Homo sapiens: one gene and its partner. The protein of the gene in region 1 purifies or fractionates together with the protein of each later gene. This does not show direct contact. Each region holds a gene or a part of one and is shown on either strand. Other genes may lie near its edges.

Evidence for each region.
Region 2: the proteins of KIAA0232 (region 1) and DCAF7 purify together in Homo sapiens (affinity purification with mass spectrometry; 2 studies listed by BioGRID and IntAct, with this or other methods). This does not show direct contact.

The regions. Positions count from the first base shown.
Region 1 is NC_000004.12:6,876,727-6,889,407, reverse strand, and holds the end of KIAA0232 (uncharacterized protein KIAA0232), read right to left. Parts: coding exon 12,651-12,681; intron 8,622-12,650; coding exon 8,442-8,621; 3' UTR 5,244-8,441; downstream 1-5,243.
Region 2 is NC_000017.11:63,578,921-63,591,601, reverse strand, and holds part of DCAF7 (DDB1- and CUL4-associated factor 7), read right to left. Parts: intron 12,266-12,681; coding exon 12,154-12,265; intron 11,778-12,153; coding exon 11,659-11,777; intron 8,101-11,658; coding exon 7,891-8,100; intron 6,392-7,890; coding exon 6,274-6,391; intron 2,603-6,273; coding exon 2,430-2,602; 3' UTR 1-2,429. UniProt on the Homo sapiens protein: Involved in craniofacial development. Acts upstream of the EDN1 pathway and is required for formation of the upper jaw equivalent, the palatoquadrate. The activity required for EDN1 pathway function differs between the first and second arches.

The DNA of each region.
Region 1 (12,681 bases):
GAAGAGCGCTCCTGGCTTTGCGCACAAAGCGCGGGCAGCCTGTGGTGTCACCCTTGGGTCCCCAGCCTGCAGTCTCCTGGAGGACAGGCCTGTGCCCAGCCACATGCGCGGGTGAATCCTGAGCGCCCCAAGGGGGGTTCCCAGACTTTAGTTCCGCGGTGGCTTCCGGCTCCCGTCTTGAGGGTCTGAAGGTGTGGGACTTGGCCCCCTGGGAGTGGCGGCGGTAGCGGGGGCACAGCGCTGGTTTGTGGAGGCCACGGTAGTGGGAAAGCAGCACTGCACTTGGGAATCAGATGAGCCATCGGCAGACCCCGGCTCACACCTCTGCCGGGTGCTCCTGGGCCAGAACTTTGGGTTCTCAGCCTCGGTGACAGACACCCTGAGACTGCTGGGAAAGACGCAGAGATGATGGGCCGTAGGTAGATCTGCTCTACCCATAGCAGCTCGGTCAGAGCAGGGTAGACCCGAGGGCTCCAGGAACTCGTGGAGCGGGGACTGACCTGTCTCCCTGCCCAGTCCCAGGACTCACGTCTTCCTCCTCCCTCTAGGGCCCCGGGCAGGAGGGACAGCACTGCTGGTGCCCACTGTGAGGGCTGGGAGGGACCACGTGGGGACGGCAAGAAACCCTCAGGAGGGAGCCTGTATTCTATTCAGGGAAATGAGCGGACACTTTGCCTGCCAGTTCTCCTCCCCTAGCCCTGGGAGGGAGAAGGGTCCCCATCTCACAGTTGAGAGAGCCACTGGCTCAGGGTCACAGCTCACGAGGAGGGGGCTCTTCCTATCACCCCTCCTCAGGGGCAACATCCCCACACAAACTCACACATCAGGGGCTCCTGGCCTTAGCGCTGCTGAGGACCAGCATTTCGTGTGCTCCTCAGCCTCAAAATGTAGCCTCACCTGGAAGGGGAGGGTCACTGTCCCCACCTGTGACAGGGCCAGAGGGTGGGGTCCTCCCCACCCCTGGACTGTGATAGGAAGTGGGAGACCGTGTGCCTGCCCCCTCGCTGCAAGGCCAGGGCCCTCCCCACCATCCTCCCCAACGGACGTGGTGGCCAGAGCCCTCGGCCCCAGTGGGCACACTTGGCTCTGCTGCTGCCCTGGCCCCTGCCCTCTGGTTCAGCCACCACTGGGAGCCAAGGACAGCCAAAGGAGTTGGTCTCCTGTGTCGAAGGGATAGCGTGACCTCCCTTCAGGGCGAGATCATGGTGACAGCACTGTGGTCAGCACTCAAGGATGAATGGCCTCTGTGGGGCTGACCCCTGCTGACCCCCGCTGACTAGGCAGGCCTGGAGCTGCAGATCCAACAAGGGCCCTTAAAGGGCTCTGCTAGCACAGGGGGGAGGGCAGGGAGTGAGAGACCGCCTGCAAAGAGGCAACTGTCTCCTTAGTTACTGGACTCAGTGCTGCAACTTCTCTTTTGCATTTCCGTTTTTGCTTTTTTTGAGTCCAGTGTGAAAGGAAAATAAAAACGTGGGACCGTAATTCACTGTGCTAAAAGGAAATACTTAAGATGAGAATAGACTCATGCAAGAAGCTGCGTTTCCTTATGTTCTTAAGCAGATAGCTACAGCGAAAGGGCCAGACAGGCCAGGCACGGTGGCTTCACGACTGTAATCCCAGCACTTTGAAAGGCCGAGGTGGAAGCATTGCTTGAGCCCAAGAATTCACGGCCAGCCTGGGCAGCATGGTGAAACCTCTGTCTACAAAAAATACAAAAATTAGCTGGGTGTGGTGGCGCACACCTGTGGTTCCAGCTACTCGGGAGGCTGAGGCTGCAGTGAGCCAAGATCGAGATCACGCCACTGCACTCCATCCTGGGTAAGCGTGAGATCCTGTCCAAAAAACAAAACAAAACAAAAAGGCCAGCTATCTCCACAGGTAGCTACTCTGTGTTCACTGTATCTTACGTAAAGTGAGGATTTAGTGCGTACAAGTCAAATACCTAATTGACTACTCCCCTACCTGCTCCTTTTCTCTCGCAACCTGTGGATTCAGTCGTGTGACCACACCCTCCCCCTTCCCCCTCCAGCCCACTTTTCCCCTTTAAATACAGAAGCTCTCAAAATCATCTTTGGAGAAAGGCACAGACCTCTCTCTCTCAGGTGTGTCCTGAGTCTTGGCAAAATACACTTCTAAATTAATTGAGGTCTGTCTCAGGTACTTTTTAGTTTGCACTCTAGTATTTATGCAGATGGACTATTTTATGTTTATAACCAACCCTTAGGAGAGAGGTCCAGTTATGATCTCCATTTACATCTAAAGATACCAACGTGTGAGACTGAGTAACTCGCCCAAGGACACACAGCCGGGGCTGACACAGCAGGACTCCCTGCAAGTACGCAGACAATACATAACTTTTTTTTTTGAGACGGAGTCTTGCTGTCACCCAGGCTGGAGTGCAGTGGCGCGATCTCAGATCACCACAACCTCTGCCTCCCGGGTTCAAGTGATTCTCCTGCCTCAGCCTCCGGAGTAGCTGGGATTACAGGCGCCTGTCATTATGCCTGGCTAATTTTTGTAGTTTTAGTAGAGACGGGGTTTCACCATGTTGGCCAGGTTGGTCTCGGAACTCCTGACCTCAGGTGATCCGCCCACCTTGGCCTCCCAAAGTGCTGGGTTAACAGGCATGAGCCACCGTGCCCAGAGACAATACGTAACTTAATGAGTGGGATTTTGTGAGATGGAGGTTTCAGTGTTAAATGGACTCTGCAGTCAGTGCCCAAGGTGAATTCGGGCTCCAGCATCCACCAAGTGTGAGACTGCAAGTGCCTAATGCCCCATTGTGCCTCAGTTTACTCATCTGTAAAACAGAGCAGCTGTAGCTCCCTCATAGGGTTGCTAGTTAACACTCAAGAGCGCTTAGAATGCGTGGCAGCCAGTAAGCCCTCAGTGTCAGCTGTTGACTATGACTAGCACAGACAATAGCAACGCCAACCAAACGTTAGGTGGCAGCATCATTACCAGCTTGATAATTGAGGCAACCGTCCCTGAACATGCTATTAATTAACCACACCAGTGGCACAAGGCTAGCAGCGGGCTCTGAAACGACAGCTCATTTCCTAATCTCTGCGTTCACAACAGTGGCCAGCTTGTGACGCCATCCGACTGGCTGCTTTCAAGAGGAACCAGGGGCAGGGGCTTCCTTTCTGTTCCTGGACTGCTGGTAGATGCAGGCCTCCTGGGCACTGCCACAGCCACTCATGGCCAGAGTGGCATCTGTAGTGGCAGCAGCAGCAGGCACACAGGGCAGTGGCCAGAGCACTTTCAGTGAAAAAGGCAGAAGCCTTTACACTCCACCCCGGGCTGTTCTAAAAATACTTAGCTGTGGTGTCAGAATTCCTGGCCCGAGAGGGGAGGACTGCCTGAGCTCCGGGAGGTGGAGGCTGCAGTGAACCGAGATGACATCACTGCACTCCTGCAAATCGGTGGGGTAAGGACTTTAAAAATGGTGTTGGGGGGTGGGCCAACTACATCCTTTAGGGCCTGTGCTATTGCCAGGTGCAATGGCTCAGGCCTGTAATCCCAGCACTTTGGGAGGCTGAGGTGAGGAGGATGGATTGAGGCCAAGTAATTGAGACCAGCCTGGGCAACCCTGTTCCTACAAAAAATTAAAAAATGAGCTGGGCATGGTGAGGTGTGCTTATAGTCCCAGCTATTAGGGAGGCTGAGGCAGGAGGATCACTAGGCCCAGGAGTTTGAGATGACAGTGATCATGCCACTGCACTCCAGCCTAGGTGACACAGTGAGACTGTCTCCAAAAAGGAGCTATGCACAGATTTCAAAAATTTTTTGCACCAAAATAAACTTGTACTAACTTGTTATAACATGTCTTAAGATCTACTTTGAGGCACTAAGAAGGGTATGACTGTTTGAAAAGAGCACCTATCAGAGCAACATGAATTCTGCTAAAAATGGAAGCAAGGACATCAAATTTATGGTGATGCTTGGGTGGAAGAATGGTGAGATCAGTGATTTTTTTTTTTTTTTTTCCTGAGACAGAGTCTCGCTCTGTTGCCCAGGCTGGAGTGCAGTGGCGTGATCTCGGCTCACTGCAGCTTCCGCCTCTCAGGTTCAAGCAATTCTCTTGCCTCAGCCTCCTGAGTAGCTGGGACTACAGGCACATGCCACCACGCCTGGCTAATTTTTTTGTATTTTTAATAAAGACAGGGTTTCACCATGTTGGCCAGGATGGTCTCGATCTCCTGACCTCGTGATCCACCCACCTCAGCCTCCCAAAGTGCTAGGAATACAAGCGTGAGCCACCACACCTGGCCCAAAATCAATGATTTTTTTACAAAAAAGCTTATGGGGACAATGCCCCGCCCCCAGCCAAAATCAGAGGTTTGCCAATGGGTAACTTGTTTTAAGAAGGGATGAGACAATGGTGAAGACCTCCTCATCAATTTGTGAGGAAAAAATTAATCTTATTCATGCCTGAATCAAAGAGGACCAATGATTAACAGCAGAAACAACACCCAACACCACAGACACCTCAGATGGTTCAGCTTACACGATCTGACTGAAAAATTAACGTTGAGCAAACTTGCCACTCAATGGCTACCAAACCACTGCACTCAGATCAGCTGGAGACAGCAGCAGAGCTTTCAGGGGAAACTTTCAACAAGAGGAATCAACATCCTAAAGCATTTCCTCTGAGAACTGTAACAGGAGATGGAACATGGCTTTACCAGCACAATCCTGAAGACAATGTGATTGTGATCACAGCACTGGCTACCGAGAGGTGGGAGGGGTCTCCTCATAGCAAATGCAGACTGGTCAAAAGCAGAGGCCAGGCAACCATTTTCTGGGATGCTCAAAGCACTGTGTATGTGCTGACTTTCCAGATGCCCAAAGAATGTTAACATCTGCTTATGACGAGTGTTTTGAGAAAGTTAGCCAAAGCTGTGGCAGAACAATGCCTAGGAAAGTTTCACCAGAGCCCTTTTCCACCATGACAGTGCTCCTCCTGCTCATTCCTCTCAGCAAACGAGAGCCATTTTCCAAGAGTTTTGATGGGAAATCATCAGGCATCCACTTTGCAGTCCTGATTGGGCTTCTTCTGACTTTTTGTTTCCTAATCTTAAAAAGCTGTAAAGGGCACCCATTTCTCTTCAGTTCACAATGCAGAGACTACACTGACAAGGTGAAATTTCCAGGAGCCTCAGTTCTTTAGGGATAGACTGAATGGTTGGTATTATGTCTTATAGTAGTATCTTGAACTTGATGGAACTTATGTTGAGAAATAAAGTTTATATTTTTTTATTTTTCTTTTAATTCCATTTTCCATGAACTTTTAAAAGTCCCCTCATACATGTTTACAGATGTCCATAGAAACGTTATTCAGATACTGAATAAACAACCAAAAAAACATTGTTTTATCAATGAGGAACCTGTTAAATCTACATAATACAGCTATAAAAATAATTATGTAGTTCTATAATTACCGACATGAAGACATCTGAGTAAAAACCTATTTCTGATGTTATAGAAGAACAAGTATAGTACACTCTTGAATGTAAATTTCTCTGTGTATGCATTCATATATACTGTACATTCAGAATCCTGGAAAGGGGCTTGCACAGATGTTACCAGTGTATGTCTCAGAGTGACAGAAGGACATATGAGTTTTCCTTTTCCCTTATACTTCTTTAAAAACACACTGATTTTTTTTGCACAATGAATATCAATCATATTAACATATAAAGATTTAATTTTTTCCCCAGAAGAAAACAAAAAGATTGAGCTTTGTGTACCATCCACGGACAAAAATGCTATGTGTTTTGCAGACTCAGGTAGTAGTCCCTGCGTGTGCTGGGGGTGAGATGGGGAGGAGCCGCTGATTTCTCAGCAGGCCACACCACTTTCTTCCCTAGCAAAGCTGCACAATGTTTTCAGCAGTGTCTGCAATGAGAGCTAAATGACCTCCATCTAGAACAAATGTAACCTGGGCACTTGCTCTTCCACGGATGCTCATGAGTAAAAGGAAGCTGGAGTTCTTTACAAAAGAAGCTTTGCTATGAGAAATAAAAACAACAAACTGTTTTTTACAATTTTTATTTGGTGTTAACTCCACAAGAAAACAAACAAAAAAAAATCAGTTACTCTGGTGTACGTGAAATCAGAACAATACAACCACGGGAAAAACAATCTCAGCCCAGGAATGGAAACTGGTACTTCAGTGCTATGGAAATGCAATGCGCTTCATACCACAGTGCGTTTCAGCGTTTGCCAACTTTTTAAAAATGCTTTTTCTTTGTGATCATCCATTCACAAAACTAAAAAGCCACACTTTCATCTCTGTTGCTGAAAGCCTCTGAGCTTCAGCTACTTAACTATGAAAACAAATAAATACATAATTTGTGAATCCCTTTGCTCACTTCGAATCCGTCCCATTCACCTGTGGAAGGTGCTGCATCTTCTCACCTGTGTCTGAGGAAGTGTGCACCTTTGCCACCTGGAGCCCTTTCCTAATAAACAGCAGCTGTCCAAAATCAACTGTGCTCAAGGTTGTGTCTGAAATCTATTTATTTGGTCTTTGCTACACAAGCAACGATTTCTAGAATAATCGTCACTGTAGTGATATGAGGAATTTACAACTTTCAATCCTTTTTTACTTTTGCTGTTAAATTATATTTCAGTGCAGATGCTTATCAATTTTTAGGAAGCTCCAGAAGAATGAAAAATACATAAAAACGTATCTGAAGTTCGTAAATAAATAACAGCAACATAAAACCTTACACATGCGCGCGCGCACGCGCGCACACACACACACACACACACACCCACCCACCTTAAAGTGTCAAAAAATGTGTTGTATAAAAATAAACCCTAACACGTGGGAAGATCGACCCGGCGGGCACACCAGGTCCCTCTCGGTGAGGACACACAGACCCTCAATGACTCCACAGTCTTTGATGGTACTTTCTTTTCTGTGTTATCAATTAAGAAAAAGGCAACAAAACCCAAATGTTCAAAGCAAATCATAGATTTCACAGCCAGTTCAGCTCCCAGCTAATAAATTATATGTGTGTTTACTGCCTGCCCAAATGAGTGGTGAAGCTGTCTAGAGCGCATCAGACTTTTCTGCCATTCCTGATGCTCCAGGCATGCTACGCTGATTTCACAGATTAGGTTTTTTTTGTTTTTGTTTTTTAAACAATGAGTTGGTTAAAAAAGAAAAACAATGTAAAAAATGTAAAATGTTTCGGCTGTGCACATACTGCTCCTCCTGGCCTCTGCCTGTGGCACAATGCCATGAGAGCCGGAGGAGCGGATCGCCATGCACAGACGCGACTCACAAGATGCGCCGGCTCCCCGGGCTCACCAAGGAGAAACGGGAGCCAGTCCCACGGAGCGACAGTCAGCAAAACCACCACACAGGGATGTGGAAAACTCATGACTCTACCCGCCCCAACCCACCACACACAGAACTTGCCCAGAACATTCTCTCAAACACAAAATGAGATCGAAGCTATACTACATCACAGCCAAGAAGCGGCTAGCTGCAGCAGCCAAAGATTTCTCTGGGTGATGAGGTGGCCTTTACTGCATGTCAAATGTTCACAATTTCAAGTTTTGGGGGTTTCAATTCAACATAGGTCACCAGAAAGTAACAATCTGTAACTAAGGTCCTTAGCACGTATGGAACACTCACCACAAAGAACCCTGCATGGGGTTTTGGTGTAAATGTAACTGCAGTATGAGAGCAGGTAAGGGGTGGGGTATGCACCCTTACCCCACTGTGTCTCGCATACGACCCCACACCCCAAATCCTTGGCTTCTTCAGTTAGCAAGAAAGTCACGAACCATAGTATCTTCCGTGATACTTTAGGGGAAAAGAAATCCTAAGAGAGAAAACACAGTATTTGGTGAGTCTTGAAAAGCACACCTCTGCGGTTCCTACTGGAAATGTACATGAGATTTTGCTGAATGGAGACCACCGCTGAGTCACCCAGGCTTCCCTCTCGCCTTCAGAAAGGCATCAAGCCACTGTAGGGTAAGAATGGATATCCCAGTTCTTGGAGAACAAAGCCTAAATGCTCCAAAGCTGAAGTCTCTGAAGAGCAGAAGTGGTTGTTGACACTGCAATGCTAGTAAGGTCATAGTGATATAACCGCAGTCGGAAGGAAAATTAACTGCAGTTAAGATGCAAAAAGCAGTGATACTTCTAAGACAAGCACATGCACACCCATTCTTGATTTGACAACACAATCTAGTCTATTTCAAATAGCCAAGAATTTAACAGCTGGGAAAAAAAATCTTTAACAGGATAGCTGTCCTCAACTCTAAAATAAGCAAGAAGAGAAAGATAATTATTACCAATCTGAATCAGTTAATTGAAGAGGAAACCTAAGTTGTTGTTTTAGATTAACAGGTCTCACTGAAGAGTAATTTTCCATCACATATCATTTTTAAACAATAATTTGTACTATTTTGCAGGTTTAGAGATGAGTTCGAGAAAAGAGCTCCTCTTCACTAGGGCCCACCCACTCGCCTCCGCCTTCTGAGCCTGTCTCTTCCGAGGTGGAGCTGGCGCTGGAGCACATCTTTCCGCGGAAGCCATCTGACTTTGCTCCAGAATCTCTCTCTCCTGTACATCTTGCTTCATAAACAGAAGACACCTAAGATTAAAACAATTTTCAACACATCAAAAAGACTTTTTTTTCCCCAAAAGGGTGAGATACTCTATCTATATACAAAGAAGAAATAATAAATCATCAGTGTTTTCCTGTGGAGTTACAAACATGCAGAGTTTTACTGTTTCAGAGCAAAACCGCCTCTCTTCTCTGATCCATGAAGGATCCAAAATCCTAATTCCACATGTTCAGTCACTTGGACAAAATGTTAGCCATGTTAGGGTAGGATAAAGAATTATTTCATTTTCAAAGTCTTTGAGTACCTGCTATGCACCAGGAACTTTACTGGGCACAGGGACTCCAGCAGTGGAAGGCGCATGCCAGGCTCGCTGGGGAGATGAACGAGCAAACCAACATGTGCCAGTTGCAGTGACACAGTACCGATGGTGAGGGGGGCACTGCAGACGGGTGTGTTGGGAAGGGAGTTTGCAGTGACACAGTACAGATGGTGAGGCGACACTACAGACCTGTGTGTTGGGAAGGGAGTTTGCAGTGACACAGTACAGATGGTGAGGGGACACTGCAGACCTCTGTGTTGGGAAGGGAGTTTGCAGTGACACAGTACAGATGGTGAGGGGACACTGCAGACCTCTGTGTTGGGAAGGGAGTTTGCAGTGACACAGTACAGATGGTGAGGCGACACTACAGACCTGTGTGTTGGGAAGGGAGTTTGCAGTGACACAGTACAGATGGTGAGGGGACACTGCAGACCTCTGTGTTGGGAAGGGAGTTTGCAGTGACACAGTACAGATGGTGAGGCGACACTACAGACCTGTGTGTTGGGAAGGGAGTTTGCAGTGACACAGTACAGATGGTGAGGGGGCACTGCAGACGGGTGTGTTGGGAAGGGAGTTTGCAGTGACACAGTACAGATGGTGAGGGGACACTGCAGACCTGTGTGTTGGGAAGGGAGTTTGCAGTGACACAGTACAGATGGTGAGGGGGGGCACTGCAGATGGGTGTGTTGGGAAGGGAGTTCTTTGGAGAAGAGGCCCGCTCAGCTGAGAAGCCAGCCATGCAGAGGTGCCAACACTCTGTGGTGTCGGACTGTCTCCCCTACACCAGATGGTCAGCATCTCTGGACCCCAGGACATGAGATGCAGTGGTGGCCCCTCCTCAGTCACAGTCATTACAAAGCTCCCCTCACCCTGCCATAGTAACTAGCAGCACTCCCACCTCATTTCCAAATGGCAGCATTGCCCCTGGTTGAGAACCCCTGAGGCAGAAGCACAGAAAAGCCACACAGAGTAAGGGGAGAGCAGAGACAGATGAGGTCAAAGGCAGACGGGGGCAAAACATACAGGGCTGTAGAGGCGTGGCGGGGAGTTTGGATCTGTCTCAAATGCAACAGCAAAGTGACATCATGGTTAGCAGTATGGGTCCTAGAGGCAGACTGCTGAGGTTCAGAGTTCAGGTCCACACTGAAGCTGTGGCTCTCTGGCCTCGGATACACGGCGCCTGATGTTTTTGTGCTTCACTTTCCTATTTTGCAGAACAGGCATGACAACAGTACCTACCTCACAGGGTCGTTGTGAGGACTGAACAAGATACTGCTCGTGAGGTCATTCTGTCTGCTGTGTGGAGAGAAGGCTGGAAAGGATGACGAAAGCAGGAAGGACAATGAAAAGACCATGGCAGCTGTTCAGGAGCAGGGACAGTGGCTTGAACAAAGTGGTAATGATGGAGAGGAGGAGAAGTGGGAGATGCGAAGTGGCTGACAGCGGGGAACGGTCAGGACTGGCAGGCAGACTGTGTGTGGAAGATGAGAGAGAGGACTGGGGAATATGTCTCAGTTTGGGGTTTGAGGCTGGAGGGATGATGTGAACTAGTCACTGAGGAGAGAGCTGGTGGGGGCCTCAAACATCTGCCTTCATGTGTGGAGCCGGACAGGTCAGTGGGCAGCAGGACGTGGACGATGATGCTACAGGTGCTTGGGCAGACAGTTCTCACAGGACTTGAATGGACACTGACAGATGGTTAATACTGAGTGTCAACTTGATCACATGCCGTGTGATTCAAGTTAACGGGAAACTACAACAGCCCAGTCCAGACAGGATACAAATGGCTCAGACTCTTTAGGAATGAAGGTTTAGGTCACTCCACCGGGAAAAAACCACAACCTGCTGAGGTGCTTGCTGAAGGCAAAGGGAATACAGAATGGGTAGTAGAAGAAGGTAGTCATCAATACCAGCTACGACCATGTGACCAGGTGCAGAAACCAGGACTGTAATTGTCTTGAGGAGTATTTCCTCCTTCGTTAAAAACACGTTTGTGCATGTATACACTTGTACTAAGAAAATCTCATTTTATTTTTTGTCCTTTATCATGTGACACAAGATTTATGTATGTATATATTTATGTATGTATGTATGTATGTATGTATGTATGTATGAATGAATGATGGAGTTTTGCTCTGTCACCCAGGCTGGAGTGCAGTGGTGCGATCTCAGCTCACTGCAATCTCTACCTCCTGGGTTCAAGCAATTCTCCAGCTTCAGCCTCCCAAGTAGCTGGGATTACAGGGGTGCACCATCACGCCCGGCTAATTTTTGTATTTTTAGTAGAGATGGGGTTTCGCCATGTTGGCCAGGCTGGTCTTGAACTCCTGACCTCAGGTGATCTGCCCACCTTGGCCTTCCAAAATGATGGGATTACAAGCGTGAGCCACAGCGCCCGGCTGACATAAGATTTATTGACTTCATATCAGCATTTAAGTATTGTTAACTCTATGTAATAGTACTTGGGTTTGGGATTGGTGCTTTTCCGGTTGTATGAAGCATAGCTGTATTATGTTAGGTATAATTATGACCTTATTGTCTTTATTTGAAGATTACATATAATTTCAGGAGATGTGTATGGGTTCAAATTGACAAGGGGTGGACTTGTTATGGTTAATACTGAGTGTCAACTTGATTGGATTAAAGGATGCAAAGTACTGATCCTGGGTGTGTCTGTGGGGGTGTTGCCAAAGGAGATTAACATTTGATCCAGTGGGCTGGGAAAGGCAGACCCACCCTTCATCTGGGTGGGCACCATCTAGTCAGCTGCCAGCGTGGCTAGAATATAAAGCAGGCAGAAAAATGTGAAAAGACTAGACTGGCCTAGCCTCCCAGCCTACATCTTCTCCCATGCTGGATGCTTCCTGCCCTCGAACATCGGACTCCAAGTTCTTCAGTTTTGGGACTGGGACTGGGACTGGCTCTCCTTCCTCCTCAGCTTGCAGATGGCCTATTGTGGGACCTTGTGATCGTGTGAGTTAATACTTAATAAACTCCCCTTTGTGTATATATATACCTATTCCATTAGTTCTGTCCCTCTGGAGAACCCTAATACACTGACAATTCACACCAAATAAAAAGAATTTTCCTTAGGTTCATTTGCCTGCCTGCCTCTTAACCGGGGAAGGTCTAAGACGAGACTAAACCAGGCGGAGGCCCCGCTCCCGCCTTCGTGGTGCCCACAGGCTTGTGGAAGAGGCAGACATGCAGAAACGGAACGCAAGTACATGCTCTGGCTACAGCAAGAAGAGTCGTGCACAGAGTGCAGGAGGACACGGAAAGGGCGGGATCGTTCTGCAGAAGCCGGGACAGCGGCAACAAGCACACTGGCAAGGCTGCCTCAGGGTGCACTTTCAAAGAGGACAAGGCTAGGTCTCCCACTTATTAGGTAAACAAAAAAAAAAAAGATGAAAAGTGTGCCCACCCAAGGAGCAACAGGGTCAGCTCTGCATTTGTAATGCAATGCCCTCGGGCAGTAGTGTAGAGCCAAGACTGGGGAGAGAGCTGGGGATTCTTCAGGAAGCACTGGCAGTCAACAGTCAAGGGGGTTTGGAAGCGGGGGAGAATGCAGACTCAGAACAAAGGCCAGAGAACAGGAAGTCTGCACCCACAGGCCTGGCTGGTTCCTGGGAGAGGTGGGGTCCACTCACATGACTCCCAGGTTTTTGACTACAGTGACAACTGGAGGTGGTGGCTGTTTGTAAGTTAATGACGAGGAGGAGGACAGTCCACTTACCCTATTAAAATCTAACAGGCGCTCTTCATTA
Region 2 (12,681 bases), on another chromosome or scaffold:
AAGGGAGGGTAAGAGAGCTGGGACTCAAAGACCAGCAACTCATCAACTGTGAGTATGTGTGTGCTTGCTTAGGGGGGTGGAGTCCCCCTGGGTCCCCGGTGGCATTCAGGGGAAGACTGTACTGCAGGACCTAAGGAAGGATGACAGGAGCTGGGCGTCCACAGGGCAAGGGAAATCTCAAAAGTTGTTGGTTTCCAGAGTAAATAGCTATCTTATGCAAATATGTTCTAATTATTATTTTTTTTTCAAGTTGTTGTTTCTGAGTTCCAGCTGACAAATTCCACCATACAGACCAGGCGTAGGTGCAGATCAGGAAAGGAATCTTAGAACTCAGTGGATGTAAGCCCTGCCCAGCAGACCAGCCCCTTCTACCACTGACTTCCATTTCAGACCCTTCTCCACAGGAAGGAACTGATGGCCTCCTAAACAAGCAGCCATCAGCTTGGCCTTGCTACCCTTGAGAGAAGGACCCAGTAACCATTATCAAACACAATGAAAAGCAGAGGAGGGTTCTGACCAAGAACTGCTCGCTTTGTATCTCCAAACGATGCAGTGCAAATCCAGTGGCAAATGCAGGAGAGGCAACCACAAGCACATGGCCAGCCAGAGTCCTAAAATCAGAACAACAAAGTAAAAGGGTAGAAGGGGAAATATGCTGGCTAAAAAAAGAGCCTTTTTCTTTGGGACAGGTCCCTGTATGGTAAAGCAAAGAGCTAGACTTTTGGCATATAATGACATCTACTTCTGAAAAGGAAGACTTAACCAAAAAAGCTTAAGGGCCCAGAAGAACAAAGTTACTGTTTTACTTCTCAAGCAGGTGAGAACCAAAGAGGACAAAACCATCATCCTTCAGGCCTGCTACTCTACTAATCTCAGATGAGCAATTCAGAGGGACTTAAAAACCTTCGGGTAGGAGCAGAGCGCAAGGAAACAGCCAACTTTCCCCCAAGAGCACATCCCAAACTGCCTGCCCCAAGGGCTCATCTAACGGTGGAATCACACATATGCCCCTCCATGGAACTCATTCACATAACAGAAAGACACCTGCGGCCTGCAAGTCAAAAGACAACTGCAGGCTACAAGTCCAATACTGCTCAGAACCTAAACTGGGGGAGAGAGGGGTTGACAGGTGTGGGTAGAGCTCTTAACTGGCTGACCCTGGGGGTCTATAATTCCTTTTCCTTCTTTTTTTTTCCTCCCTTTTCATTACCCACAGTATAATGCTTTTTAACTATCTATCCACTTGACAGCCCAGGATTGCCGCAGTCCATCAGTCCATCTCTCATGTAAGGTCTTGTTCAGGGTTGGAAGCACAGACAGGATGCCTCGGGAAGACTCTCTCACCTCAGAACACTCAATCCAAAGAATGCCCAATATACCACCAGGCACAGTAAACTCAAACAACAGAAGCACCGAAGTTCAACTCAGATATCATTCTTGCCTATCATTGAAAAGACACTAAGTGGAATGGCCTGGGGCTTATATTTGGATGGAAAAACAGACTCTGAAAGAATGTACTGGAAATATGCTTGAAGTTCAGCTTCATGAAACGATTCCCCTCAAGTCAGGTACCCTGAGAGCCTGTTTCTCTCAGCTCTACCATGCTGCCAGTGGGAACCAATGGGCTGGACAGTGGTGCTTCAGGGTAAACAGAGGCTTCCTATGTCTGTTTACAAGCCCAGAATGCCCTTGAGAGGAGCCAGGCTAAGAAAGGTGTGATGAGTCAGTGGACTTCAGAGCACCAAGGTGGTTTGGACTCCCGGTCAGGTATGTACTACACAGGCAGTGACTCAAGAAGGCAAACTGCTCATGGGGCCAGGGGCCCAGTACCAGCTCCAGGCACTGAGGGAAGAGAAGAAGGTGCAAAGAGGGAGGACTATAAGACAAAGAAATGAAGCAGGAGAGTAAAATTCTTTTCATAAAAAAATTAGCCTGATAGATAACAAATATACAAAGTTAAAATTTGTTAAACACACTGATACTAGGAGAAAAGACAAATTGGTATTTGTTCCCACGTAAGTGCTAACACGAACATGGACATGGACGAGACATGAACTGCTGCCTTGGGCAGCAAACAGAGACACCTGGGCAGAGGAATAGACACAGCCAGTGCGTGAACTGCTCCTCAACACAACGCCTGACAAACAAATATACACACATTTTTTAATTGAGGAACCAAAGGAGAAGAGGAAAGGAGAGAAAATCTTAAAACTCAGCCCTGGGCTGAGGAGGCGCCACACAGCACTGAGTCTGCCACAGAGGGCGATGGGGTGACTGGCCAGGAACTCCTAGAGCAGCTTCTGGTAACAGTGGGTGCAAAGCAATGAAAGACATACTGGCCACTGGAAACATGTTTCTTCTTACTTTGGGGGTGGGGCAGAGGCAGGAAATACAAAAGCCCCTGCCTCGTGGGCACAGCGCCACCAACACTACACTCTGAGTATCTCCAGGCAGTTGTTGTAGCAGATGGCGATCCAGTCGGGCTGAGTTGATGCCCACTGCACATTGTTGATCTCTCCTTCAGCTGTGTAGGCCAGGATAGGGTCCTCAATGGCTCGGGGCATTTGCTGGATGTCCCAGATGAGAGCCTGGTGGTCATCCGCTAGGGACAAAGAAAGCCAGCAAGCAAGGTCACAAGTGAGGCAATGCGGATGATGATCCCTGCATTTCAGGAGCAAGTCACAGTTTACAAAGCACCCCCGTGATGGCGGTTCTATTTTAAGCCCCCATTTTATCGATGAGGAAATCGAGATTCAGAAATGTTAAGGCACTTGTTCCAAATCACACAGCTATTCAGCCAAGTGAGTGGCAGAGCCAGAACTCAAATCTAGGCCCTGACTCCATCTCCCAGATGTCCCCAGGCTCTATCCACTGCACTAATGAGTCCTTCTCATCTGGGTCAGGTATCAGGAGTGGACAAGGGGATACCAAACATGTCATTTGCAGCCACTTAAAATACTTGAGTGGTTACAAAGATCATTCTCTGATCATTCAATATAATGAGAGCGTTTCTTCCCTGTTTGATGGACATTTATGCTTCAGTGAGGTGTTATATAGAAGACTGATAAAGTAGTGCTGATATGTGCTGTTAAAAAATTCTTTCCTGGCCAGGCATGGTGGCTCACACCTGTAATCCCAACACTTTGGAAGGCTGAGGCAGGCGGATCACCTGAGGTCAGGAGTTCAAGACCAGCCTGGACAACATGGTGAAACCCCATCTCTACTAAAAAAAAAAAAAAAATACAAATTAGCCAGGTGTGGTGGCACACACCTGTAATCCCAGCTACTTCGGTGGCTGAGGCAGGAGAATCGCTTTAACTCGGGAGGCAGAGGTTGCAGTGAGCCGAGATCATACCACCGCACTCCAGCATGGGTGACAGAGTGAGACTTCATCTCAAAAAAAAAAAAAAAATCCAAGAAAATAGCTATGGGAAACACCAGAAAGATGGTAATCACTTTAAATATATAAAAGCACATGAAAAATAAGTAGAAGGAAATATATTAAAATGAGAATGATGGCAATACTAAGATGGCAAGGTTAGGATTTATGTTTACTTTTCTCTAGTTCCTAAGTGATTCGTAATGTGCTCATATTACTTTTTTTTTTTTTTTTTTTTAAATGGAGTCTCATTCTGTTGCCCAGGCTTGAGTGCAATGGTGCAATCTCGGCTCACTGCAACCAAAGCCTCCCAGGTTCAAGCGATTCTCCTGCCTCGGCCTCCCAAAATGCTGGGATTACAGGCATGAACCACCGCACCTGGCCTATATTACTTTTATAATCAAAATAGTAAGTTAATTTTTAAAAAAGAAAAAAATAAGGCAATGGCCTTCAGAGCTGCAGTGTACCCTGACTCTGCCATGCATTCTGATGAAAGCTGGTCTCAGATACAAAGAAAATCTGAATAAACTAAACCCTAATAGACTAATTGTGGGCAATACTAGTCTCCTGCCAAGGCCGCATAGTCTGGGCCAGGTGCAAGATCCCTCTCCCAGGGACAATCAATGCCAAGAGGTCAGGGAATTGCACCTCTAGAGCACTAAGGCCCTTTTCCTCAATGCTCAACCGAGCACACTTGAGCAACAGCTCCTTCGGTTGAAGGGGCTCAAGGCAGGTGCAACACACAAAACAACAGCGAGCCAGACAAAGGCAGCAGCCAGGAGCAGAAAATGGGGCTTCTACGGGGCCAGTCCTGCTTTCCATGAATAATGGATGACACCTTTCTTTTCTGCTTCTTCTATCCCTCCCTATCCACACCCCTGGGAAAAAAAAAAAAAGAGGGCAATAATGAAGAAGACAGACCACAATCTGAGGTACAGAAGGCAGCAGCAGGCCCCCAGCTGCTCTTCAAGGAGACATACAGGCATGAGCAGAGGGCCAAAATCAGGAAAAGCTTCATGCCTTCCAAATAATGCTCAAATGGCAGAAAAACACCAGAGTACATTGCTTCTTGGGCTCCATAACAAACCTTGTCCATTATAAGGCTCCTGATTAGTGAGGAGAAGAAAAAAAACACACTAAAAAAGTTAAGGAGCAAAACATCACAGGACTAGGACAGAATCCTATCAGTGCAAAAGGAAGAAGTATATAGTTGTATTTGGGGGCATAGATGTACATCCCTGAAAGTATACCAAAAGGGTCTGGAAGGAGACACATTACCTGTTGATAGAGGTCATCTATGCAGAGGGGGATGGAGGCAGAAATGATATAGGAAGGAGAAAAGATGACTTTCGCCTTGCTCTTAAATATGCTTCTGTACTGTTTTCAATTTAAATAACAGATTGGCATTATTTCTACAATAAAAGTGCATTGACAACCAGCATATTTTTCTTTTTTTTTTTTTGAGACGGGGTCTCACTCTGTCACCAGGCTGGAGGGTAGTGGCACGATCTCAGCTCACTGCAACCTCCACCTCCCAGGTTCAAGCGATTCTCCTGCCTCAGCCTCCCGAGTAGCTGGGACTACAGGCATGTGCCACCACGCCCAGCTAATTTTTGTATTTAGTAGAGACAGGGTTTCACCATGTTGGCCAGGATGGTCTTGATCTCCTGACCTCGTGATCCACCTGCCTCGGCCTCCCAAAGTGCTGGTATTACAGATGTGAGCCACTGCACCCAGCCTTTCTTTTCTTTTTTTAAAATTTATTTTAGAGGCAGGGTCTTGCTTGGTTGCCCAGGCTGGAGTACAGTGGCACAATCACAGCTCACTGTAACCTCAAACTCCTGGGCTCAAGGGATCCTCTCACCTCAGCCTCTAAGTAGCTGGGACTACAGGAATTCACCACCACACCCAGATAGTCTTTTTTTAACTTTCTGTAGAGATGAGGTCTCACTATACTGCCCAGGCTGGTCTTGAACTCTTGGCCTCAAGCAATCCTCCCACTTTAGCCTCCCAAAGTGCTGCAATTACAGGCCTGAAACACTGTGCCTGGCCCAACATATTTTTAAGGGGTACTTTTTTTTTTTTTTTTTTTTTTTTGGAGACAGAGTCTTGCTCTGTTGCCCTGGCTGGAGGGCAGTGGCATAATCTCTGGTCAATGCAACCTCCACCTCCTGGGTTGAAGTGCTTCTCCTGCCTCAGCCTCCTAAGTAGCTTGGACTACAGGTGCGTGCCACCATGCCTGGCTAATTTTTTTTGTATTTTTAGTAGAGACAGGGTTTCACCATGTTTGTCAGGCTGGTCACGAACTCCTGACCTCAGGTGATCCACCCGCCTCAGCCTCCCAAAGTGCTGGGATTACAGGCGTGAACCACTGCACCCAGCCCGTAAGGGGTGCTAGCTTTGGTCTGGGAAACAGTGAAATGAAAACCACAAGTCACAAACCACAACCAGGCAAAGTTCTGTGGGGCCCTCCGATGCATCCAGAGCACACTGTGGGTTTGTTATAGTGAAACCTGAAAGGTCCCATGGAGATGTTGATCTTCACAGTCCCAAAGATTCTGTTATATCCATGAGGGATGCCTCCCTTTCCCCATATTCCTGGAATTGAGTCCTCTGTGCCATCCAGATTTCAGGGGCACAGTACAAGGCACAGCCCTATAACTGACACATGATGTAAATCATATATGGAAGATGTTCTGATGTCCATGAGGGTACAAGATCGTCTAAAAATTTGTACTGATTGAATTTCACAAGTGTGGAGAGGCTCCAACTAGTCATTTTGTATAAATCTCTCAAGACTGTGCTTAGAAAACAGTAACAACTACAATTCTAAGGAGCCAAGAGAACAGATTTCCTCCATCCTTCCCAGATTTCTTTCTCCCCACCATGATTACCTGCAGTGCAGATGTGGCAGGATGAATGTGGGGCCCAAGCAATGCCATTGACACATGCTCGATGGTTGTTTAACCTGGCGACAGGTGTGCAGGGAACCCGGACATCTAGAATCACCACCTGCGGAAATAACAAGTAAAAGGCCTGGGATCATCAGAGTTTCATAGAAAAAAACAAAAAATACTATCCACATGCAAAAATCTTTTTAGGCATAATTTTTCATTTGTGGATTTAAAGAACTAGAGACAGGATTTCCATAGGATTGAGGGAAAAGAAGACAAAGGACACGGGTAGTTGATAGTCTCTATCTTGAGCAACACTGGGCCTTTAGACTGATAGGGGAGATGCAGAAACAGACAACAGGAGTCTGGGTAATCCTGGGTCCCAGCAGGTGCATGTGGTAAGAATTCTATGCATCTCAGATGAATGGAATGAGAGCCCAGCCAAAGCAGAATCTGAGGTGCTAGCGCCACCAAACCAAGGACAACCAATGCATTCTCCCCACCCACAATTCACCTCTTTAATCAAGTAACAGACTAGAGAGAGCTGCCATTTGTTTTTCTTTTTTTTTGAGACAGAGCATGCCCTGTCACCAGGCTGGAGTGCAGTGGCATGATCTCCGCTCACTGCAAGCTCCGCTTCCCAGGTTCAAGCTATTCTCCTGCCTCAGCCTCCCGAGTAGCTGGGACTACAGGTGCCTGACACCACGCCCGGCTAATTTTTTGTATTTTTTTAGCAGAGACGGGGTTTCACCGTGTTAGCTAGGATGGTCTTGATCTCCTGACCTGTGATCCGCCCACCTTGGCCTCCCAAAGTGCTGGGATTACAGGTGTGAGCCACCGTGCCTGGCCTTTTTTTTTTTTCAGATGGAGTCTTGCTCTATCTCCCAGGCTTGAGTGCAATGGCACGATCTTGGCTCACTGCAACCTCTGCCTACCAGGTTCAAACAATTCTCTTGCCTCAGCCTCCCGAATAGCTGGAACTACAGGCGTATGCCACCACACCCAGCTAATTTTTGTATTTTTAGTAGAGACGAGGTTTCGCCATGTTGGCCAGGATGGTCTCCATCTCTTGACCTCGTGATCCACCTGCCTCAGCCTCCCAAAGTGTTGGGATTACAGGCGTGACCCAGAGCGCCCGGCCAGAGGGCTGCCATTTCTACATCTGTTTGCTAAAGCTAGATGAATCTGTCCAGACTACAGAAGGGAAAATCTGCTTTTTCACTCAGCACCATAGGCACATACGATTTGGTTTACTCTTTAGATATTGCTTTTCCTGGCTCTAACTCCAACTCTTCAAAAATTAAAAGTTCTTAACAAGTAATTCTTATTCCAGATTAGGCTTTCTCAGTCCCGGGACTGCTGTCATTTTAGGTAGGATATACTTTGCTGGGGGACTGTCCTGGGCACTGTAGGATATTTAGCAGCCTCCCTGGTCTCTACCCCCTAGATGCCATAGTACCAACTGCGTCTCTAGAGCTGTGACAATCAAAAATGCCTCCAGACATTCCCAAAGATACTCCGGGAGCCAAACTGCTCCAGTTGAGAACCAGCCTTCTAGATATACTAAGCAGTGCTGGAGTTAGGCAGGGCCCATGGTAGCCTGAGAGGAGTGCTCACCTCCATTCCATCCATGGCCATGGTGGCCAGGTAGTTAGGGTCCTGCTTGTTCCAGCAGAGGCGAAGCAGTGGGTGATGCTGTGGGTCTTCGTAAATGATGGTGCTGTGTTCTAGATGGCGGAGGTCAAACATCCGCACCGAGCCATCAGCACCCACAGAGGCAAACATGTCCCTGCCACCCCCGGCCCGGCTAAATGCAATATCATAGACCTGTTGGTGAACAAGAAGCTCCAGTCAGATTCAGATCCATTACCTCTTCTTCCTATAGGAGGGAAATCTGCCACGTCCAGTTCATCTAAACCTCGCTCATGACACAAAAGCAGATAAATGAAGCCCAAACAGTGTCTGTGAGTACTGAAACCCGAGAGCTCTAATATCAGTGGCTTCCCAAAGATGGAAGATCATTCTGCTATAGAAATTGGCTGGCTTCTTCCCACATTCCTGCTTTCCAAGTCTTCTTCCTCCAACCCGTGATAAAACAAAGGCACATGCCCTGCTGACCAACAGAACAGTGGCTGTCTTCTGCCACACAACAAGAATGAGACACTTATTTCCTGGGCCTTGTGCACAATCAGAGGCAGGTCTACGAGCTCATTAAGGCCTAGATCATCAATCACAGAGGTGAAAGCAGCCCTCCTGTGGCCACTTAATAGCAGCCAAGCTGATTCTGTGAAACCTGGACCTGAGACTCATTTGCAAGAAAGAGGTAACAGAAATTTTGAGTCACGGGAGGCCTAGATGTTCCTGTATTCACAAATAGGTTAGTAGCACCCGCTTGTCCTAGGACATGTTTTTTCTTCTCCTAGTTGGTTTGAGATCATAAGTGAATCAATTTAGGTTCTGAATCACTGTTTTCTGCTTTTATTTGCTGCAAACATTGCATATCACTAACGTCTATGAGGAAACAGAGGCAGAGAGCAACGGAGAGCTTCAGAGAAAGGACGAAGGCCGGGTGCGGATTACACCTGTAATCCCAGCACTTTGGGAGGCTGAGGCGGGCGGATCACAAGGTCAAGAGATCAAGACCATCCGGGCCAACCCAGTGAAACCCCATCTCTACTAAAAATACAAAAAAATTAGCTGAGTGTGGTGTCTGGTGCCGGTAATCCCAGCTACATGGGAGGCTAAGGCAGGAGAATCGCTTGAACCCGGGAGGCGGAGATTACAGTGAGCTGAGATCAGGCCATTGCACTCCAGCCTGGGACAGAGCGAAACTCTGTCTTAAAGAAAAAAAAAAAAAGAGGACGAAGAGGGACGAAGAGAGAGCCAGAGACAGACAAATAGAGAGAGAAACAGAAAAACTAATGCCAAACAAAACTCATCTTCTGGGGATAATAACAGCTGACTTCTGGGGAGACACGACTAGAATTTCTCACTAAATATTACAGCTCCAGTGTTGAAGTTCTGCCTACAGAGGGGCACTGCCAAATGAGCATCTATTGCTATTTAACCTCACGAATTCCTTTTTTTTCTGGCTATGAAGAAATTATGCTTGTCTTTCTATGGCAGGAAGTAGAAGTGGTTCAAAAGGGACCGGGCCAGTCATCAACAAGGAGGCACTCAGGCCTGACGTGCCTGACAGATCGAGGCTTTCTCTAGTACTGTACAGCTGCTTTAAGGCACAGCCATGTTTATCAATATGTATACCCCCCAATGACAGCTCCTGGTAACCCTCAGGGACAGAGATCCCACAGGTGCCATGGGCAGCGTGGCTGAGTGTGTAATGCTCTCTCGGCTCTAAGTGACTGCTCCTTCAGTGCTCCGCTAGCATGGTTCACTGGGAAACCAAGGGAAGGTGACAACTCCCAAGTACACTAAACCCTCTTCTACACTGATCTGCCAGGTATCAATGAGAGCCTTCCAAACAAGTCTTTTCCTAGAGAAAGGTGGACTGAGAAAAATCAAAGGTGCTAGAAAGGTGCTATTACTGTTTCTCTAGAGCCACTATCCTTTCTCAGGTTTATTCCTTCAAGACAAGGCTGCCGGTCCAGGCCTGTCTGCTGTCAAGATCCATTCCTGGCCTTTCTCCCTGCTCTTCTTCTCTGTGTCACAAGAGAACTGATTCCTACAGCGTGCATTTGGCAGGGTCTCAGATCTGCTGGCTGCTTCTGGCTGGTTCAGCCATGGGAGGCTTTGGTGGGAAAATGGATGATGGGAGGCAGGGAAAAGCTAAGGTATTTCTCCTCCCCTCTCTCTGTTCCTAGAAGCGTCTCTGCCAGGTAAATCCAGCCCCTGGGCTCCAGGAACCCTGCCTCCTCCCATGGTCCCTCTGGCCTATAGGCAGCTGCAGCTTCCTGCTGCTCCCATTCTATGGATGACCTCACTGCTACCTATGTGGCTTCTCAGCTTTACCATCTTCTGTATAAGCAGCCCCTGGATTAAATCCCTGCAGTTCAAATACTTAAGAGTAGTTCCCATTTTCTGGGTTGGACCTAACAGACAACAGCAGGCTAAGTTGTCATATAACTAAAATGTAGCCGCTTGTTCAACTTGATGCCAAGAGGGTTTCCAGAAGTTCCTTACTGGTCCTCTCTGTGGGACAAACTCTTCATTTGACCCCTGGTTTAGCAGCAGTCAACTCTAGAAGTCTTGTAACAGGGCTTACCTTCAGGAGTACAGAAAGCCAAAGACAACCCCTTACTAAGAATGATAACCTGGGTCACATCTTCCTATGCTGTTGACAACCTCAAGTTTCTGACCTAAGATCAAGGCATTCCTTTTATCTGTATAGATATTAATACCCCTAGCTGTGCAGGGTAAGGTAGAAAAGAACAGGAAATAGTACCCACAGGAGATGAGAGTACCAGGAGCATGCAATGGCTGTAGGAGGAAAAGACTTATGGGGATTTTCCAAAATCACTGAGAAGAATGCTTTGATTAAAATGCAATTGGCCGGGCGCAGTGGCTCACGCCTGTAATCCCAGCACTTTGGGAGGCCAAGGTGGGTGGATCACCTGAGGTCAGGAGAGTTCGAGACAATCCTGGCCAACATGGTGAAACCCTGTCTCTGCTAAAAAATACAAAAATTAGCCAGGGGTGGTTGCGGGCACCTGTAATCTCAGCTACTCCGGAAGCTGAGGCAGGAGAATTGCTTGAACCCAGAAGGCAGAGGATGCAGTGAGCCCAGATTGCGCCATTGCACTCCAGCCTGGGCAACAAGAGGAAAACTTTGTCTCAAAAAAAAAAAAAAAAAAAAAAAAAAAAGCAATCACAAATAGCTCTTCTCAGTTTTCCCAATAAACACAGAAGCATCGCCATCAAAATAAAATATATTCCATTGCCTCCACTGCCAACAGTAATGAAAGTATAAAGATTAAGTGAACATACTAGGATTTGGTAAAACATTTATAGAGAAAAATGAATAATTACGTTTGTCTCTCAGAAAATTTTTTCTCTTCCTGTCTCCCTTCTTTCCTCCCCAAATCTAATCTGTTTCAAGATAAGTATTACTCTAAAGTTATTTTTTAATCACATCAGTTCCCAGCTCCTCTATAAGAGACTTTGTTATTTAAAAAAAGCAACCTCTGGCATGAAAAGAACAATGACAGACCGTAGAATAGGTCATTTACATTAGCCAAAAAAAAGCATTAGTTTACAATAGTGTTGTTTTCCCGTTTTTGATACATTACTATTGTCAATTTAGACAAGAAGATGTTATGTTATGATTTTCTACATAAATTGCAGAACAATGAGAGAACAAGCTGACCTCTTCCTGTGCGGAAGGCACAGGAAGCATTTGAGGAAAGACGAAATGGAAAAGCATCTTACCTCTTTGTCATGGGCGATCAGCTGGGTCTTCACGTGGCCAGACACGAGATTCACTCGCCCTAACACCTGCCCTGTCTCCAGCCCCCAGATGGTGCATGTCGTATCAATGCTTGAGGTACCTGCAAACAACCAGTGCAAGTCAGGGCTGACGGGACCAAGGTTCTCATGCAAGCTTCCCTCTTGTGTTTACTCATCTGCTCAGCCCAGGGAGCAGCATACCATAAAGACTACAGAAAACAAGGTGGGGGCTACCGGCAGAGCCACCGAGGCAGTCAAGTCTTCAGTCCTCACCGTAGGACCTTAGATTCTAACTGGAGAGACAAGATCTATACACACGGAAAGCTCACCCACACAAAGGAATTAATAAATAACCACATTCCACGCCTAGCCTACTTCCCACTGAGCCTTGTTCTAGGATGTATGGCCCAGTGTGACATCTGAGAAAATTTATTTTGGCTTCTTCCAGCTGAAATACATACTCCCTAACTCCCTTACCTAAAAGATAAGGATCCACCTCATTCCAGTCAAAGGAGGTCAGGGGAGCACAGAAATCAGAGTTCTTATTATTGTTTAGCAAACACTCCAGCCTGGTCTCTGTTTCACCAACCTGAAGGAACAAGAATTTTAAAAAAAATCAGCCAGTCTTATCCTCATAAAAAGTCTTTTAAAAAATCCCTGTTTAGAAAATATCTTAGCAAACATAAGACATGAGGGGAAAACATTTTTATCAAAAACAGTAATAAACCCAGGACTCCCTGAATGCTACTTTTTCCCATACTTTCTCCTCTGCCCAGCTTTGTTTTCTACATTTTCATCCCTGCACCTTCCTAGAGGAGAGGTCTTCTCACTTTGCCCAGCCTGGAACCTCTGCACAGGTGTACTAAGGCCACGCCCATGCTACAGAGGACGCTGCTGCTGATGAGCTCAGCTGAGGGTGGAGGGAAGCCTCCAAGATCCACTCACACACTTTATCAGAATCAATGGCCTGGTATTTCATTTAGTTTACTCAAAAATACCTTGGCT